Homo sapiens: one gene and its partners. The protein of the gene in region 3 interacts with the protein of the main gene of each other region in a pairwise test. Each region holds a gene or a part of one and is shown on either strand. Other genes may lie near its edges. The genes, in order: HSD17B11, STOML3, ZDHHC24, LMNA and AGR2.

Region 1 (3,523 bases), on a different chromosome or scaffold from region 3:
TTTTTTTTTGAAATGGAGTCTCACTCTGTCGCCCAGGCTGGAGTGCAGTGGCGTGATCTCAGCTCACTGCAAGCTCCACCTCCCGGGTTCACAAGCGATTCTCCTGCCTCAGCCTCCCTAGTAGCTGTGATTACAGGCACGCACCATCATGCCGGGCTAATTTTTGTGTTTTTGTAGAGATGGGGTTTCACTATGTTGGCCAGGGTGGTCTGGTCTGGAACTCCTGACCTCAAGTGATCCACCCTCCTTGGCCTCCCAAAGTGCTGGGATTACACGCGTGAGCCACCACACCTGGCCTGAGTTCTTTTTTTTTTTTTTTTTTTTTTTTTTTTGAGATAGAGTCTAGCTCTAGCTTTGTCGCCCAGGCTGGAGTGCAGTGGTGCGATCTCGGCTCACTGCAAGCTCCGCCTCCCGGGTTCACCCCATTCTCCTGCCTCAGCCTCCGGAGTAGCTGGGATTACAGGCGCCCGTCACCACGCTTGGCTAATTTTTTTGTATTTTTAGTAGAGACGGGATTTCACCGTGTTAGCCAGGATGGTCTGTATCTCCTGACCTCGTGATCTGCTCCCTCGGCCTCCAAAAGTGCTGGGATTACAGGCGTGAGCCACCGCGCCTAGCCCATTATCAGATATTTTGAAGTAGCTATTTTGAGGTGGCCATTTTAGTATCAGAACTTTTTTTCTTTTTCTCTTTTCTTTTCTTTTTTCTTTTTTTTTTTTTTTTTTGAGACAGTCTTGCTCTGTTGCCCAGGCTGCAGTGTAGTGGTGTGATCTTGGCTTACTGCAACCTCCGCCTCCTGGGTTCAAGCAGTTCTCCTGCCTCAGCCTCTCGAGTAGCTGGGATTACAGATGCCCGCCACCACGCATGGCTAATTTTTGTATTTTTAGTAGAGACGGGCTTTCACCATGTTAGCCAGGATGGTCTCGATCTCCTGACCTCGCGATCCGCCTGCCTTGGCCTCCCAAAGTGCTGGGATTTGTATATTTCTTAATAATGAAAGCAAGCTGAGAATCAGATATTTTGAAGTAGCTGTTTTGAGGTGGCCATTTTAGTATCATTTTAGTATCAGAACGTTTTTTTTTTTTGAGACAGAGTCTTGCTCTGTTACCCAGGCTGGAGTGTAGTGGCGTGATCTTGGCTCACTGCAACCTCCGCCTCCTGGGTTCAAGCAATCTTCCTGCCTCAGCCTCTCGAGTAGCTGGGATTACAGGCAGATACCTGTAATATATATATACAGGCTGATAAATATTATATACTTATATAGTATATATAAATATATAATATAATATGTATATATGAGATGTGCTGTATAATAATAATTAATAGTATAATACATATACATATACATATATAATAGTATAATACATATACTATTAATACTATAATACTATAGTATATTATACTATAATATACTATTACTATATTATACTGTTATACTATATTATACTATAGTATACTAATAATAGTATATACTATTATTATATACTAATATAATAGTATAGTATACTAATACTATATTATACTATTAATATATAATATACATACATATACATATAATATGTGTAATATAATACATATATGTATATATGAGTTGTGCTGTATATAATGCTGTGTATGTATATATGAGATGTATATGTAGATGTATATGTATATAATGCTGTATATGTATATATGTACATATTATATATGTATATATAATATATATTATATAATATAAATATAACAATATAAATATTATATATATATCCAGGAATCTGCCCAAGTAATTCTGATGACCTTGTTGACATTAAGGTAGTTAGTTAGGTACAAGCAAGAATGCGTTCAGAGTGAAACCCCATTATATACAGCACATCTCAATTGTATCTAGAAGAGGCAAATAATGCTTTATAGAAATATATCTGCTGGAGCGTGGCTTATGCCTAGAATCCCAGCACTTTGGGAGGCCGAGGTGGGTGGATCCCCTGAGCTCAGGAGTTCGAGATCAGCCTGGGCAACATGGTCACCTGAAGTCAGGAGTTCAAGACCAGCCTGGCCAATATGATGAAACCCTGTCTCTATAAAAATGCAAAAATTAGCTGGGCATGATGGCAGGTGCCTGTAATCCCAGCTACTTGGGAGGTTGAGGTGAGAGAATCACTTGAACCTGGGAGGCGGAGGTTGTAGTGAGCTGAGATCATGCCACTGCACCCCAGCCTGGACAACAGAGCAAGACACCATCTCAAAAAAAAAAAAAAATATATATATATAAATATATATATATATATATTTATATATATTTATATATATATATTTATATATATTTATATATATATATTTATATATATATATTTATATATATTTATATATATATTTATATATATATATTTATATATATATTTTATATTTATATATATATATAAAATCATATATATATACACGCAAAACATATTCTCTCTTATTTGAGAGAGCTAAAAATTAAAATAATCGAACTCTTGGAGATAGAGAGTAGAAGGATGGTTACCAGAGGCTGGGAAGGGTAGAGGTGGTGTAGGGAAGAAGTAGGGATGGTTAATGGGTACCAAAAATTAGAACAAATAGGCTACTCTGGTTGCACTGCCTGTGAGTTAGCCCTGCTCTGCAAGGAGCAGCCATAAAGAATTTTTTGTTAGTAAAAATGATTAATAATAGTAATTTAATTGTACATTTTAAAATAACTAAAAGTATAATTGGATTGTTTGTAACACAAAGGGTAAATGCTTGAGGGGATGGATACCTGATTTACCCTGATGTGATAATTATGCACTGCATGCCTGTATCAAAATGTCTCATGTAACCTTGAATATATACACTACTATGTACCCACAAAAATTTAAAAACAAAATTAATACAAAAAAATACAAAACAGACATTCATATCCTGGGGAGGTAATAGGCAATGATGAAGAAAGGGTCAAGAGTGTCTGGGAAAATCCTTTGGTAATATAAAATAGTATATAGGTATAAATGGTGTTGATCAGGGTCAAAAAACTTAGCTTGACACTTTACTAACGTAAATATAATCTGATGAAATTCAATTCTGACTGAAGAGCCTTCAGCATGGCAGATTGATGCCCTACAGGAGTACTGGTAGACTTTTGCCCATGGCCTCCTTTCTGTTTGGGGTGGCTTGTCTTGGGCTCTGACGTCAGACAGATCTGGGAGAGTCCCAGCTCCATCTTTTAATAGCCATGTGACCTTGGGTATGAAACTCAACCATTCTGTTTCATGTTTTCATCTTTAAAGTGAGCATATAAGAATTGCTGTCTCATTGAGTTACTGTGAGAATTCAATAAGAAAAATAATGAAATCATGTAAATGCATAACAAAGTAAAAGCCCCTCATAGGCTATTTGCCACTTTTCCCTCAGTCCCCCAACACACTGTAGCACTATCTCTAAATAATGATAACTCTGTTAATAGAGCTAGGTTTCATTTGAAACACAGTGTATAACAAAATGCATTAGGACGCTAGGGTCTATCCGCCCAAGCATCTTAGTTGCTTATGGA
Region 2 (4,283 bases), on a different chromosome or scaffold from region 3:
TTTATATCATATATTTTATATATAATATATTATATTTTATATCATATATTTTATATATAATATGTTATATTTTATATCATATATTTTATATATTATATTTTATATCATATATTTTATATCATATATTTTATATATAATATATTATATTTTATATAAAATATATTATATTTCATATAAAATATATGATATTTTATATCATATATTTTATATATAATATATTATATTTTATATCATATATTATATATAAAATATATTATATTTTATATCATATATTTTATATATAATATATTATATTTTATATATAATATATTATATTTTATATCATATATTTTATATAATATATTATATTTTATATCATATATTTTATATAAAATATATGATATTTTATATCATATATTTTATATAAAATATATTATATTTTATATCATATATTTTATATATAATATATTTTATATCATATATTTTATATATAATATATTTTATATCATATATTTTATATATAATATATTTTATATCATATATTTTATATATAATATATTTTATATCATATATTTTATATATAATATATTATATATCATATATTTTATATATAATATATTATATTTTATATCATATATTTTATATATATTATATATTGAAATTTTATATATTTGATATCAAACACATCATTAAAAAGGTGAAAAAATAAGTGACAACTGGAAAAACATATTTGCCACTTATGTGCTGTCAGGTATATCAAGTATTCATAAGTACATATTACAAGTTATATATTATAGTATATAGTATATATAATTATATATACTATAATACATAATATATATTATATATGCTGTATTATATAATATATATTATTACATATTATATACTATACTATAGAATACATAATATATATACTATATTATACAATATATTATATATACTATATTACACAATATATTATATATACTATATTACATAATATATATCATACATTATATACTATATTATATAAGATATATGTTATATATGTTATATTGTATTATATATATTTTTTATATATATCTGAGTTGCAAGGGCAAACTTAGTCCACAGATCTCAGAGAATGGTCCACACTGTATCTCTCCTAAAAAACTACAAAAGCACAGGAAATCAGACATTGCAAATATATCAGCCCCATTTTGTTCATTCTGTGATAGTGCCAGTTTTTCATATTCAAATATCGAAACCAAGAAAACTCATGAGTACTTTCAAGAATCTCACTGATGATACAGCTTCAGTCATGCCATCTACCCAGTTGATGTCTTCACCTGTTAAAATGGAAACTAAATGTCTCATGAAGGATAAATAAGGGGACTCTTGAGATCTCCCGCTTGCATTTCCAGATGATATTTACTGCCTTCAAGCTTTTCATGCCTACTTCAAAAGAAAAGTTTCTTTTCCAATTCAGGTAAATGTCTCTAAATGTATACTTTTTCTTTTTTCTTTCTTTATTCCATTTTTTTTTCTTTGTTAGGCAGGGTCTCACTCTGTCACCCAGGCTGGAGTACAGTGGTGCAATCTCAGCTCACTGAAGCCTAAACCTCCTGGGCTCAAGCAATCCTCCCACCTCAACCTCCCACTTAGCCACAGGCATGTGCCACCACACCTGGCTAAATTTTGTATTTTTTGTAGAGATGAGTTTTTGCCATTTTGCCCAGGCTGGTCTCGAACTCCTGAGCTCAAGTGATCTGCCTGCCTTGGCCTTCCAAAGTGCTGCGATTACAGGGCATGCACCAGTGCATGCAGCCTAGTTTTTTCTTTTATGTATTAGTAATGCCAAACGTGTTCTCTATTTCTAACATGTACTATGGCTTTTTTGGCAACATAAGGTACAGAGCACAGGTTAGGTCATACACACACGCACACTCACACCATCATCACACACACACACACGCACACCATCATCATAATCACTTTCTGAACAACTTTTTAAACTTTCCAATGCTCAGTTTTCTCATTTGTAAAATGAGATTCTAAGAGGATCTACCTCAGAATTATTGTAAAATTGAAAGAGATAATGCAAGCAAAATGCTTTGTAACACATAATAGTCATTAGTATTAATGATAGTAGTTGGTACTTATAAGCTAAGTTTTTTTTCTCAACTTCTCTCCATTTATCAAACAGGATACAGCTCAAACCAACTTTTCTTTTTAATCTCAGCATCATCAGAAAATGTTTGAAGTTGGAGAAAAGTCAGCCTCTTCAACATATCTTTGTTATTTAATACAAAAAGAAGAAATACAAAGATAAACACCAATTCTATCTAAAATTGAATGAAAAATAAAGCAAGTTATAGACTGCTGTTCAAGAAGCAAATGAAATCAGCATAAGCAATGAATTCAAAATCCTGAGAAGGATTTCATACAGAAAGAAGAAATTCAAAGATAAACACCAACTTTATCTAAAATTGAAGGAAAAATAAAGCAAGTTATAGACTGCCGTTCAAGAAGCAAATGAAATCAGCATAAGCAATGAATTCAAAATCCTGGGCTATAAATGAAATTGAGGCCGATTTCTGCAAATATATCTCATACTTACTCTATACCTGTCTATAATGCTACAACTCCTGCTTTGCCATATATGTAAAAAACAAGCCTAAGACAGGAAAAAGGAACTTACCCACGAAATTCTCTTTATCTTGCTTCTCAGGTGAAGACACCCTAGAATCCATCTCATTCTTGAGAAGCTTTTATACTTGGCAATTTTTCATGGGTTTGGAGCTAAGTGTGAAGAACAGGCAGCAACTCAGATGTGCTTGGGAGAGGGGAGAGGAGAAAGTATGAGAGAGTGAAAGACATTCCTTCTCTTTAGTGAACTCCCTAAGGGGTAGTTACCCTGGTGAGGGAAGCCTGATAACATAAACAAAAAGATTTCTTTTATGAGTTCAGACTGCCTTTGTTCACAGAAAAAACTTGAAAGAATATGACCATCTGGTGGTATTGCTTCCTGTAAAATATTGCTGTGTAATTTTCTATAGCATTTATATTTCATAAAACACTTCTATGCACCTTGTATAAATCTTGTGTGATCACTGATTACACAATGACCTGTTCAATACACAGGGCAAGTGTATCCATCCTTATGTTTCAGATGAGAAAATTTAACCCAACTCATTCTAACACTGCAGTGAGTGAGCTTTTGAAACTCAAATCTGATCATGTCTTCATCCTGCTTAAAATAATCAAAAAATTGCCAACTGTCAATATTGTAAAGACCAAACTCCTAAGTGTCCTACAAGACCCTGCTGGCCTGCCCCTTCCTCCCTTTCCAGCCTCACTCATGTGTCTCTCCGTGAAGCAGCTCCATTGGTCTCCTATCAGTGCCTCCAAAGCTTGATATGTCTTCTCGCCACCGGATCTTTGCACGTGTTATCATATGCATAATTTTTTGGCTTGTGTCTGTTTCTTCTTCTAGACCAAGAATTGACAAACTTTAGCTTGCCAGCTAAATTTAATTTACCACTTGTTTTTAAAACATAAAGTGTTATTGGAACACAGTATGTCCTTTTGTTGCTTTCTTTTTTTTTTTTTTTTTTTTGAGATAGGATTTCACTCTGTTGCCCAGGCTGGAGTGCAGTGGCACAATCACAGCTCACTGCAATCTCGACCTGCCAGGCTCAAGCAATCTTCCTACCTCAGCCTCTTCAACAGCTGGGACTCCAGGTGCACACCACCATACCTGGCTAATTTTTAATTTTTTTTTTTTTTAGAGATGGGGCCTCACTATATTGCCCAGGCTGGTCTCAAACTCTGGGCTCAAATGATCCTTCAGCCTTGGTCTCCCAAACTGCTGGGATTGTAGATATGAGCCACCATGCCCAGCTCTTTCATTTTTGTATTGTCTGTGCTCACTTTTGCACTGCACCCGTGGATTTGAGTAGTTGTGACACAGACCATACAAGCTGTAAGGCCTAAAATATTTACTGTTTGTCCCTTCACAAAAAAAGTTTGCTGACCCCTGCCTTGCACTATACATTTCCATGAGGAGAGTGACTTGGTCTAACATTTCCATTGCATCTGCAACAATTAGAACAACGTGGGCACATGATTGATGTTCAACAATACTTGCTGAATGAATGAATATATAAATCACAAATGAAAACAGCTCTCAAATGGCAAAGCTCTTTCTCAAATCCAGATCCTTAGGATCCTGTACTAGGATTCCTTCTTTCATCAGACCACATAGAACCACAGACAATTTTGTGGTTATTCCAATACTAAGAACACCAATTTTCTAATTTTCTGATGTTCATTTCTCTCATATC
Region 3 (3,523 bases):
TTTCATTCATATATTTGAAAACATGCAAAGCCAACACAAACACATTAATAAAACTATAAAGCAAAGCAACGGAATGACTGAAACAGGACAGTGTCTCCCCCACCAGGAAGGGGCAACAGCAGGAACTTCGAAGGAAATGGTAACCTTCTCAAATGCAGTGGGGCTGTTTCCTCTTAATTTTTATAAATGTGTTCTTGTAGCTCCTCACTAATTAAAAACAACAACAACAACGAGTCCAGGCATGGTGGCTCACACCTGTAATCCCAGCACTTTGGGAGGCCAAGGTGGGCAGATCACCTGAGGTCAGCAGTTCAAGACCAGCCTGACCAACATGGTGAAACTCCATCTCTACAAAAGTACAAAATTTAGCAGGGCATGATGGTGGGTGCCTGCAATCCCAGTTACTTGGGAGGCTAAGGCAGGAGAATCGCTTGAACCCAGGAAGTGAGCCAAGATCGCGCCATTGCACTCCAGCTTGGGCAACAGAGAGACTCCATCTCGAAAAATAAAACAAAACACACAAAAAAACATGAAAATAAGATATTGTGGGCTGGGCGCAGTGGCTCATACCTGTAATCCCGGCACTTTGGGAGGCCGAGGCAGGTGGATCACCTGAGGTCAGGAGTTCCAGACCAGCCTGACCAACATGGAGAAACCCCGTCTCTACTAAAAATACAAAAACAATTAGCCGGGCATGGTGGCACATGCCTGTAATCCCAGCTACCGAGAGGCTGCAGCAGGAGAATCGCTTGAACCCGGGAGGCGGAGGTTTCGGTGAACCAAGATCGCATCATTGCACTCCAGCCTGGGTAACAAGAGTGAAACTCTGTCTCAAAAAATAAAAAGAGAAAGAAAGAAAATAAGAAATTGTGGAGGGCGAGGGATGAAACAGGACAAGGTGAGTCTGCTAATGCGTCTGTGCAGCCCAAAGTGCCAGGTACACCAAGTTCCTCCTGTCATTAAAAAATAGCAACAGAGCATGCCTGTTACAAAAACAACCAGCCAAGCAGCTCAGATCTTTGTGGGCATGGGCAGAGCCTGTCAGAGGGTGGGTTTCTCTGAAGGTTCTTGGGGGTCAAGCATGTTCTTTCATGGGAGGCCCCCCAGCAGTATCTATGGACTTTCACTTAACCCCATTTTTTGGTCTAGCCTCTCACCCACCCCTCCCCAGTACGCCTAAGACCCGAAGCTTCTCTGGTTCCATTTATCCTTCAAATAATCCTCACGTCACACCACCCCACCCAGAGGTGTAGCTGCTGGCTGCATGATGTGGGTGGGGTGTGGGTGGGATGTGGGGGAGCGGCACCCCACTGATCCTTACATAGACTTTCCATCGGTCCCCATTGTTGGCCGAAGCCTCACCTCACCCTCCATGGTCCTGGTGGAGTTCCTGAGCCCCTCCGGGGCTCTGGCAGGTAATTCCACTTGCCTTTTGGCCCCACCTTTTGGGAACACATAATTTCAGCTCTTAATTCTCCATCCACTTTCCATCTTTGAAAATGTCAGCCAGGCGGCCGGGCACGGTGGCTCACACCTGTAATCCCAGCACTTTGGGAGGCCAAGGCGGGCAGATCACGAGGTCAGTAGATCAAGACCATCCTGGCCGGCCAGGAGTGGTGGCTCACACCTGTAATCCCAGCACTTTGGGAGGCCGAGGCAGGTGGATCACAAGGTCAGGAGATCGAGACCATCCTGGCTAACACGGTGAAACCTCGTCTCTACTAAAAATACAAAAAATTAGCTTGGCGTGGTGGCAGGCACCTGTAGTCCCAGCTACTTGAGAGGCTGAGGCAGGAGAATGGCGTGAACCCAGAAGGCGGAGCTTGCAGTGAGCCGAGATCGTGCCACTGCACTCCAGCCTGGCAACAGAACAAGAGTCTGTCTCAAATAAAATAAAATAAAATAAAATAAAATAAAATAATAAAAAATTGTCAGCCAGGCACGGTAGCTCACGCCTGTAATCCTAGCACTTTGGGAGACGGAGGTGGAGGCAGGTGCCAGGAATTCAAGTTCAGCCTGGCCAACATGGTGAAACCCTGTCTATACTAAAAATACAAAAAAATTAGCTGGGCATGGCCAGGCGCAATGGCTCACACCTGTAATTCCAGCACTTCGGGAGGCCAAGGCGGGCGGATCACAAGGTCACGAGTTTGAGACCTGCCTGGCCAACATGGTGAAACCCCCGTCTCTACTAAAAATACAAAAATTAGCCAGGAATGGTGGCGGGCACCTGTAATCCCAGCTACTCGGGAGGCTGAGGCAGGAGAATCGCTTGAACCCAGGAGGCGGAGGTTGCAGTGAGCCGAGATCACGCCATTGCACTCCTGCCTGAGCAACAAGAGCAAAACTCCGTCTCAAAAAAGAAAAAAAAAAAAATCAGCCGGGCATAGTGGCGGGTGTCTGTAATCCCAGCAACTCGGGAGGCCGAATCACTTGAACCCGGGAGGTGGAGGTTACAGTGAACCGAGATCGTGCCACTGCACTCCAGCCCCGGCAACAGAGAGAAAAAAGAAAATGTGGTCAGGCTCTGTGTTCTACTGTCTTCCCTCCTGTTTTCTTTCCCTTTGTATTATTTTTGATTTTCTTTACTATCATCTTAGAGAGATCCTAAGAGAAAACTGAGACGAACACATGTGTTTAGGCCTGCCATGTGGAAATGGCGGTCTCTATTCATTCTATTTACACGGAAACATTTAACAAGCAGCTCTTGAGGAGGCCAGAGAGGTGCAGGCCTAGCCCTGTCAGCACCACCCTCCACAGATGCCCAAACAGCCCCAGCGCATTTCTTTACCTTGATTTCTTTCCTACTCATTTCCTCCAGCTGTGCAAGGGTAAAGGCAAAAGCACAAAGACCTGGGTTGGACCCTGCCTCCATTTGCCGCACCATGATCTTACCACATGGATTCTTAGAGCGTAACTGCTGCCCCATGGACCAGGTTAGCTAAGAGAGGTTCCATGAAACTGCTGTTGCAGAAATGCTTCTAACTATAAAATGCCAAACCTGGGAAAGAATGTTTGGATTCTCATAGCCTGGATCAGTAGGACACTGCCTTGGCGTGCTGGTGCCCCACCCCCAACTCACCCAGGCCAGGGGAGGTAGAGCCCCAGCCCCTGAGACCCTCAGGCATCCTGCAGTTTCCAGGCCCTACAGAGGGTCCCAGAAACAGCCCCAGCAACAAAGTGAGGGGCCAGAAACTATGCAAAGATGGAGGGAGGCTGAGAAACAAGTCAGTGCTTTATTAACCTGGCAAAGGGGCAGCTAGGCGGCCTGAGCAGCCCCTGCCAGACCCTCCTCTGCACTCCTCTGCCTAAGTCACGGCCCAAGCCCTGGACACGTAGGAGTGTAGGCGGGCAGGGGCAAGGCCAAGGAAGGGGTGGAGTTGTCCAATGCAGATGTTAAGGTCCAACCCGACTTCCTTACTGAGTCTAGGTGTGGGGGCCCCCCTCTCACCCCTTCCTCCCTGCACAGCTCTGGCTCTTCCTGGAGTCAGGAGGCTGTGTGTCCCACATCTGCTGTGGTCTG
Region 4 (3,500 bases), on a different chromosome or scaffold from region 3:
AAGTGTTTGCTATTATATTATTATTATCACTGCCACCACCGCTTTTGCAAGCAGCAGAAGGTGAAGAGGTTAGACTGAAGAAAAAACTTCTGTGCTCATCAGCCCATAAGCTCGCAGAGCACAGGGATCATGCATCTATGTTTTCCTCAGTCAGTGTCTGCCAGGCACTGGCAAGGAAAGGCTGTTACCAGGGGGAACTCCAGGAATTCCTCCTGGCACCTAAGGAGGCTGGGGAGACAGGACTAGGGAAAAGGTGCCCTTGAGACACCTTCTGAAATCATCCCATTGCCTTCCAGCTTCTTTCAGCTCAGGCTGGCTGGTCAGGGAAACGCTTTGTGCCATAGTGTCTGCCCTCTTCCTCCTCCTGGCTTCTCCATTCTCTCTGGAACTTGTGGCTTAGGAAAGCAGTGAGGTGGAGGAGGAGGAACCCTAGATCAGCAGCTAGAATTGACTGGAATGCTGCTGCTGGCTTTCGGTAATTGACACTGGGCCATTCACCTTCCTCCTTTGCACCTCAGTTTCCTCATCTATAAAAGGGAGAGGGTTGAGCTGAATCAACTCTAAGCTCCTTCTAGTTCTCTAAATTCTGAGAGCCTCCTAGTACAGCCAGCAGCAGCCATTAGCCTTCAGGGTAGAGAGGCCTCTTCTGGGAAGCCCCAGCCAGCCTGGGGGTCAGCCCAAGGAGCTCGGAATCTAAGTTGCCCCAGTTGCTTCACTTTACCAGCGGTTTTTCTTCATTTTCCCTCCTCCCCCTGCAGCTGCTTCAGCTTCGGAAAAGTTCTGAAGTCATGGAAAGTTGGGGCTGTGCTCCCAGCCAGGGGCTAGGCCGGATGGCAGCCAAAACCTGAGCTGGGTTTTGACTTTATTTTTAGCTTTTCTGACTGAGACAGAGGAGGGAATACATTCTCCGGTTCTGGAAGGGGCTCTTTTTTGCAGGAGACAGACACTTACATTAAACAACTTGTTCTGAGGTGTGGCCAGAGGCCTGGACTGAGCAAGTGTGCAGGCTGGGGGAGCTTCCTCTGGCTTCTCATGTCCTTCCCCTGCCCCTCTGAGTGTCACTCTATCCTCCTCCCTGCCTGGTGGGGGGAGGTGGGGGTGACTCCTTTTTTGGACTCTCCTAAGCAGAACACTGCCTGGGTCTCGTCCTCCAGAGCTTCTGCAAATCTAGCCTTCCCTATCCCTCTTCACAGTGAATTGCTGGGCCTCTTGGAGTTTAGGACTTTTGTGGTAGAAGAAAAATGTTGGCAGGGCTGCTTTTCTCCTTTCCAGGATAGATTTTTCCTTCTGCCCACGCTTGGTTTTCCTTTTTTCCATCTGCTGTGGTGGGCTCATGCTTAAGCACTGATGAGTTACAGATGGCAGCTGGAACCAGGTCCTCTGGATCTTTCCCTCCGCTCCCTGGGTCTGCTGCTTTCTCTCACCCTATATTTGTGAAGCAATTGTAACATCTAGAAAGTTCTTGGGTTCTCTGGAGGTTTTTAAGAAAATAGGACCTTTCTATTTCTCCAGTCCACTAGCAAAAATAATCAGGGGCCCAGAAAAGGTGAGGGAGGTGGCAGAGGCAGCGCTGTTCGACTGGTTATAGCTAAAGCTTTACCCACTTTGAGGAGCAGGGAGGCTTAAAGCTGGGGCCCAGATGGACCTGGAGGCCTGGGATCCACATCTGGAACCAGATGCTGAGGCTATGGTAGATGGGTAGGGCTCAGCCTTCTCCCAGGGCACGGATGAGGCAGGAGGGAGGGAGGCAGGGACCCCTCTGTTCAGTGCAGATCAGGGCACCCAGACTGGGTCCTGAGAAAGGAAAGGGTCAATATTGTGCCTGGTCATCCTTGTCTGAGGTCCCTCTGAGCTCTAACCAGACTTTCCTTCCCCACAGTCCCACATGTGTAAAAGGGACTAGGAGAGGTGACCAGTACCTTTGGGGCTCAGATCGAGAAGTGCTAGGGACATGTGGGCCATGAGCTTAGTTGTCAGGCTCCTCAGAGGGAGGGAAGCTTGGCCAAAGGGAAGTGAGTAGAGTCCAGGGAGAAGGCTAAGTAAGGCCCTGTGTGGGAAGGGGCAGGAGACAAAGGTACCCCTGTCTCTTTGGGAAAGAATGGGAGGAGAGAGAGGGAAAAGCATTCATATCACGGGGTAGAGCTCTGCCCTTGGCCCCAGGCACGTTCCTGAGCCCTGAGTCATGGGAAGGGTGGAGAAGCAGGAAGGGGGTTTTCAAGGACCTTGGGGAGGTGGGAGCCCAGCCCCAGAGGCAAGCAGATGCAAACCAACCTAATGCAAGGATGCCCTCTCCTGGTAATTGCAGGCATAGCAGCGCCAGCCCCCATGGCTGACCTCCTGGGAGCCTGGCACTGTCTAGGCACACAGACTCCTTCTCTTAAATCTACTCTCCCCTCTCTTCTTTAGCAATACCAAGAAGGAGGGTGACCTGATAGCTGCTCAGGCTCGGCTGAAGGACCTGGAGGCTCTGCTGAACTCCAAGGAGGCCGCACTGAGCACTGCTCTCAGTGAGAAGCGCACGCTGGAGGGCGAGCTGCATGATCTGCGGGGCCAGGTGGCCAAGGTGAGGCCACCCTGCAGGGCCCACCCATGGCCCCACCTAACACATGTACACTCACTCTTCTACCTAGGCCCTCCCCCATGTGGTGCCTGGTCTGACCTGTCACCTGATTTCAGAGCCATTCACCTGTCCTAGAGTCATTTTACCCACTGAGGTCACATCTTATCCTAATTTGGCTGCCAATGGGATCTACCACAGTGAATTTAAAATAATCCAGGAGGCCGGGCATGGTGGTTCACGCCTGTAATCCCAGCACTTTAGGAGGCCGAGGTGGGCCGATCACGAGGTCAGGAGATCGAGATCATCCTGACTAACATGGTGAAACCCCGTCTCTACTAAAAATACAAAAAATTAGCCTGGCATGGTGGCGGGCGCCTGTAGTCCCAACTACTCGGGAGGCTGAGGCAGGAGAATGGCGTGAGCCTGCGAGGCAGAGCTTGCAGTGAGCTGAGATCATGCCACTGCACTCCAGCCTGGGCAACAGAGTGAGACTCCGTCTCAAAAAAATAATAATAATAATAATAAAAATAATCCAGGCCATGTGTGGTGGCTCATGCCTGTAATCCCAGCATTTTGGGAGGCCAAGGAGGCAGGATTGCTTGAGTCCAGGAGTTTGAGACCAGCCTGGGCAACACAGACCCCATCTCTAGAAAATAAAAATTTAAAGAAATTAGCTGGGCATGGTGGTGTGCACCTATAGTCCCAGCTACTTGGGAGGCTGAGGCAGGAGGATGGCTTGAACCTGAGAGGTCGAGGATACAGTGAGCTGTGATTGCACCACTGCACTTCAGCCTGGGTGACAGAGGGAAACCCTGTCTCTACATAAATAAATACATAAAATAAAATAATCCACAAGCCATTTCTACTTAACTTTGCAATGAACTGTACCTGACCCTAGATCCCTCCCAGTTTGGCCCTCCGGTATACAAGGGCCTCCTAT
Region 5 (3,523 bases), on a different chromosome or scaffold from region 3:
TTCCAGTGATATCGGCTCTAACTGTCAGAGATGGGTCTGCAAAGATAAATGAAGCAAAAGGGAATGGAATGGTTTGTTTTCAAACAACCTGTATTTATTGCCCCGGGGAGCTGAAGTTCATGTATTCATGTCCTGTGAGGGAATGGAGTGTGTCTGCACTCACAGGAGCTCTGATCCATCCACTCTACTACCCAGCCCCTGGCAGTTAGTAGCAAATGCAGGGCTGGAAACATCAACAGCTGTGCAGTGCTATTTGTGGAAAAGGTTATGAACCCTTCTGTTCTATCTATGGCAACCTGAAAACAGAATAATATATATTTAGGGGTGACATGGTGTTTTTTTTTTTTTTGGTGAAAACATTAACATTCTCTACTGCAAAATTATTTTAAATTCTTGAAACGATTATGTTGTAGTTTACATGTTTCTAGATCATTGGAAACCCACATCCAATGCTAGTTTTCAAAACGAGTTTTTTAAAAAAAGTTAATAGAGGAATGCAAGTCCTTAACAACAGCAAAGTTCAAATAAGCATATAGTACCTTCACTATATTTTACTTTATTGTTAATTAACTGCATTTTTAAAAGTAGAGATTGGTCTTCTCTTATGTATACTTATATCCCTCTAAATTTAAATCCATCTTGCCATGTTTTGTATTTAACTTGAAGTGATCTAATTAATGAGAAAAAGAGGTATTTTAAAATTAAGGTGCATCCAAAAGGGAAGCGTGAGGATACAGAGAGATCTGGAAACCTTGCCTTGAGAGACGTAATCGAAAGAACCTAGGACACGTGCCCTGAAAATGAGACAAGGAAGACATGTGAGAACCATCTGCATGTTTGCAAAGTCTGTCGCTGGTACTGGAGTGGGCAATCTGTCATTTCAGAATGTTGGACTAAGGCCAGACACATAAATTACAAGAAGCAGATGTACATTTATTCACCAGATTTAAGACCAACTATACTTCTGTTTGGTGCAGAGGATACAAAGACACGGTCTAATCTTTGTAAGAAATTAACCTAAGAAGGGCTTTTTAAATACCCAACTAGCAGCTCACCTGGCTGCACATTGGAATCATCTGGAGAGCTGTAAACACTATGGATGCCTGCCTCCCACCCCCAGAGATTCTGATTTAATTGGTTTGAGGTGTGGCCTGGGCAACTTGATCTTTAAAATCCTCCAGGTGATTCAAACATGTAGTCAGGGTGGCTACTACGGAGCTAGAAGAGCAAGCTGCCTTGGAGCTGGTTCTTAGGACTGAAGGAATTGAATGTGGGTTAAAATGCCCTTCCACAGGGATGCTGTACAAAGAATTCCTGTACAAGGTATGAACAGACATCTATAAATTCCCTTTTAATGTTAGGATTCCAAATGTCCTAAATTCTGACAAAACTAAACCTATAAAATTAGTGCTTTAGTTCAGCCTTCTTCCTTTTTTTCTATTTCTTGTTTTTCTTTTCCCTGCTTTGTACATTCAGTGTAAACTTTTAATGAATTACACAGGTGAATCATATGATTAGCATGAATTGTTGTAAGTGATGGATTTCATTATGGATTGTCCTTAAATCAGTATGACTTTGAACAAAGCCAAACTCAGTACATTCATTCAATAATTAAACACATATTGATGGAGAGCCTACTGCAGGGTCACGTTGGGAATATCATGGTGAGCAGAAATAGGTACAGTCCCTGCCATAGGGGCTTATAGTCCAATGTGGGAAATATTTATTACATAACCACCCCCAAACTGCAAAATTATACCTGAGGAAAGTATGACTACAAGAGCACATAGTAGGGATTTGACTCGGTCAATGAATAATGATGATTGGGGAGTTAATGATGTGAAATTGGGGGACAGAGAAGGAAGTGGGGAAAGCATATGAAAAGTACCAGTGGCAGGAAGGAGCATGTGGCTCCTTTCATTTCTTTTTCCCACCTCATATTCCTTTTTTTTTTTTGAGACAGAATCTCGCTCTGTTGCCCAGGCTGGAGTGCAGTGGTGCCATCTCGGCTCACTGCAACCTCTGCCTCTTGGGTTCAAGCAATTCTTGTGCCTCAGCCTCCCAGGTAGCTGGGATTACAGGCTCCTGCAACCACGCCTGGCTAATTTTTTTTTTGTATTTTTTAGTAGAGATGGGGTTTCACCTTGTTGGCCAGGCTGGTTTGGAGCTCCTGACCTCAAGTGATCTGCCGGCCTTGGCCTCCCAAAGTGCTAGGATTACAGGCGTGAGCCACCCAGCCTTATTCCTAACTTTCTTAAAAATAATGATAAAAAATGTCAGAAAAATCTAACACACAAAGTGAAAGTTTGCTGGATTAAAAAATAAATATTTGCAGGCCTCTCGTATTCAGGAAATTTATCAATATGTTTAAATAGTGAATAGGGTGCTTTGTTCTCAGAAGTATTATAGCAGAAGATGAAAAGTTACAATTAGCATGTGAGAAAAGAAAGTGTTGTGTGGAAATAGGTAAAAGCTCACATTTTCTAAAGAAAATATGTTGCGGAACTTAAAGGAATGTCATGCTCCTTGCTAGAGCTTAGTGATGACATTGGCCATGGCAACGTGGCAAGGGACAGTGGGGAGGAGAGAAGGAGGATGGCAGCACTAGTATGTGTTTCCGAGTTATCTCACTGTCACTTCCGCTTACCAACAAACATAATCCTGGGGACATACTGGCCATCAGGAGAAAGGTGTTTGTCAGTTGTTTCATACTAAAATAAAAAGAAAAGCATCTTTTAGTTTACTTTGACTTTTCAGTCGTTTTCAAACTTGTTAATACAAGAATCTGTCCATTTCCGGCCAGGCATCTCAAGATATCATAACTCTTCCACACAGAGTTTATTGTACAGATGAGGAGACAAGTTACAAGCATGAAATAATAAATAAGATAGAGCAGAACATGAGATAAAGTGCTGAATGGATGTGATAAAGAGCAAAAAAATTAAGGGAGAATTTGGAAGGAGTTACTGTGTTTGGGGAAGACATCTGGGATGAAATAAGAGGCTATTAAGGAAAAAAGCAGATGTCATTTCTAGAGAAATTACGGAGACAAGTACGGGATTTTCTTGAGTATTCATTTATCCATTTATCAATTTTTATTTAGAACTGTATTTAGCAAGGCATGGTGCTTATCTTTAATGAATGCACACTCTATTGAGAGATACAGGTAGGAAAATGAATATTGAGGATGCAGTGGGTGAAATGTTACGGTGTAGGATATGCAGGTTTGGTGATTGCCTTGAGCAAGACATTTAGCCCAGAATGCAGATTCCACCCCGACTAGGACTTTCTGAAGTGGATAAGGAGGAATCTTTACAAATGAACAGGAGTCAGTTAGGTGGAAAAGAAAGACACTTCATGCAGGGGGAAGAGTATGGAGAGGACAGGTGGAGCATTTTCTCCTATGGCCAAGTGCTGGGGAAGGACTGAGTTGGGGGGATGCACGAGGGCAGTGGCGAAAGAAGGTGCTAGAGCTGCTTCAGGGGCCGGCTTAGGAATGACTTTGCACACCATGCCATAGTGT

The links.
Region 1: the proteins of ZDHHC24 (region 3) and HSD17B11 interact in binary tests that used the Homo sapiens proteins (3 or more experiments, as listed by UniProt).
Region 2: the proteins of ZDHHC24 (region 3) and STOML3 interact in binary tests that used the Homo sapiens proteins (3 or more experiments, as listed by UniProt).
Region 4: the proteins of ZDHHC24 (region 3) and LMNA interact in a two-hybrid assay, tested with the Homo sapiens proteins (one large-scale study listed by BioGRID).
Region 5: the proteins of ZDHHC24 (region 3) and AGR2 interact in binary tests that used the Homo sapiens proteins (3 or more experiments, as listed by UniProt).

What each region holds. Positions count from the first base shown.
Region 1 is NC_000004.12:87,377,673-87,381,195, reverse strand, and holds part of HSD17B11 (estradiol 17-beta-dehydrogenase 11 precursor), read left to right. Parts: intron 1-3,523. UniProt on the Homo sapiens protein: Can convert androstan-3-alpha,17-beta-diol (3-alpha-diol) to androsterone in vitro, suggesting that it may participate in androgen metabolism during steroidogenesis.
Region 2 is NC_000013.11:38,988,032-38,992,314, forward strand, and holds the start of STOML3 (stomatin-like protein 3), read right to left. Parts: upstream 2,801-4,283; 5' UTR 2,691-2,800; coding exon 2,639-2,690; intron 1-2,638. UniProt on the Homo sapiens protein: Required for the function of many mechanoreceptors. Modulate mechanotransduction channels and acid-sensing ion channels (ASIC) proteins. Potentiates PIEZO1 and PIEZO2 function by increasing their sensitivity to mechanical stimulations.
Region 3 is NC_000011.10:66,536,042-66,539,564, forward strand, and holds part of ZDHHC24 (probable palmitoyltransferase ZDHHC24), read right to left. Parts: coding exon 3,488-3,523; 3' UTR 1-3,487. UniProt on the Homo sapiens protein: Probable palmitoyltransferase that could catalyze the addition of palmitate onto various protein substrates.
Region 4 is NC_000001.11:156,128,211-156,131,710, forward strand, and holds part of LMNA (lamin), read left to right. Parts: intron 1-1,616; exon of another isoform or gene 1,617-1,639; coding exon of another isoform or gene 1,640-1,698; intron 1,699-2,406; coding exon 2,407-2,563; intron 2,564-3,500.
Region 5 is NC_000007.14:16,794,984-16,798,506, forward strand, and holds part of AGR2 (anterior gradient protein 2 homolog precursor), read right to left. Parts: intron 2,712-3,523; coding exon 2,648-2,711; intron 37-2,647; coding exon 1-36. UniProt on the Homo sapiens protein: Required for MUC2 post-transcriptional synthesis and secretion. May play a role in the production of mucus by intestinal cells. Proto-oncogene that may play a role in cell migration, cell differentiation and cell growth. Promotes cell adhesion.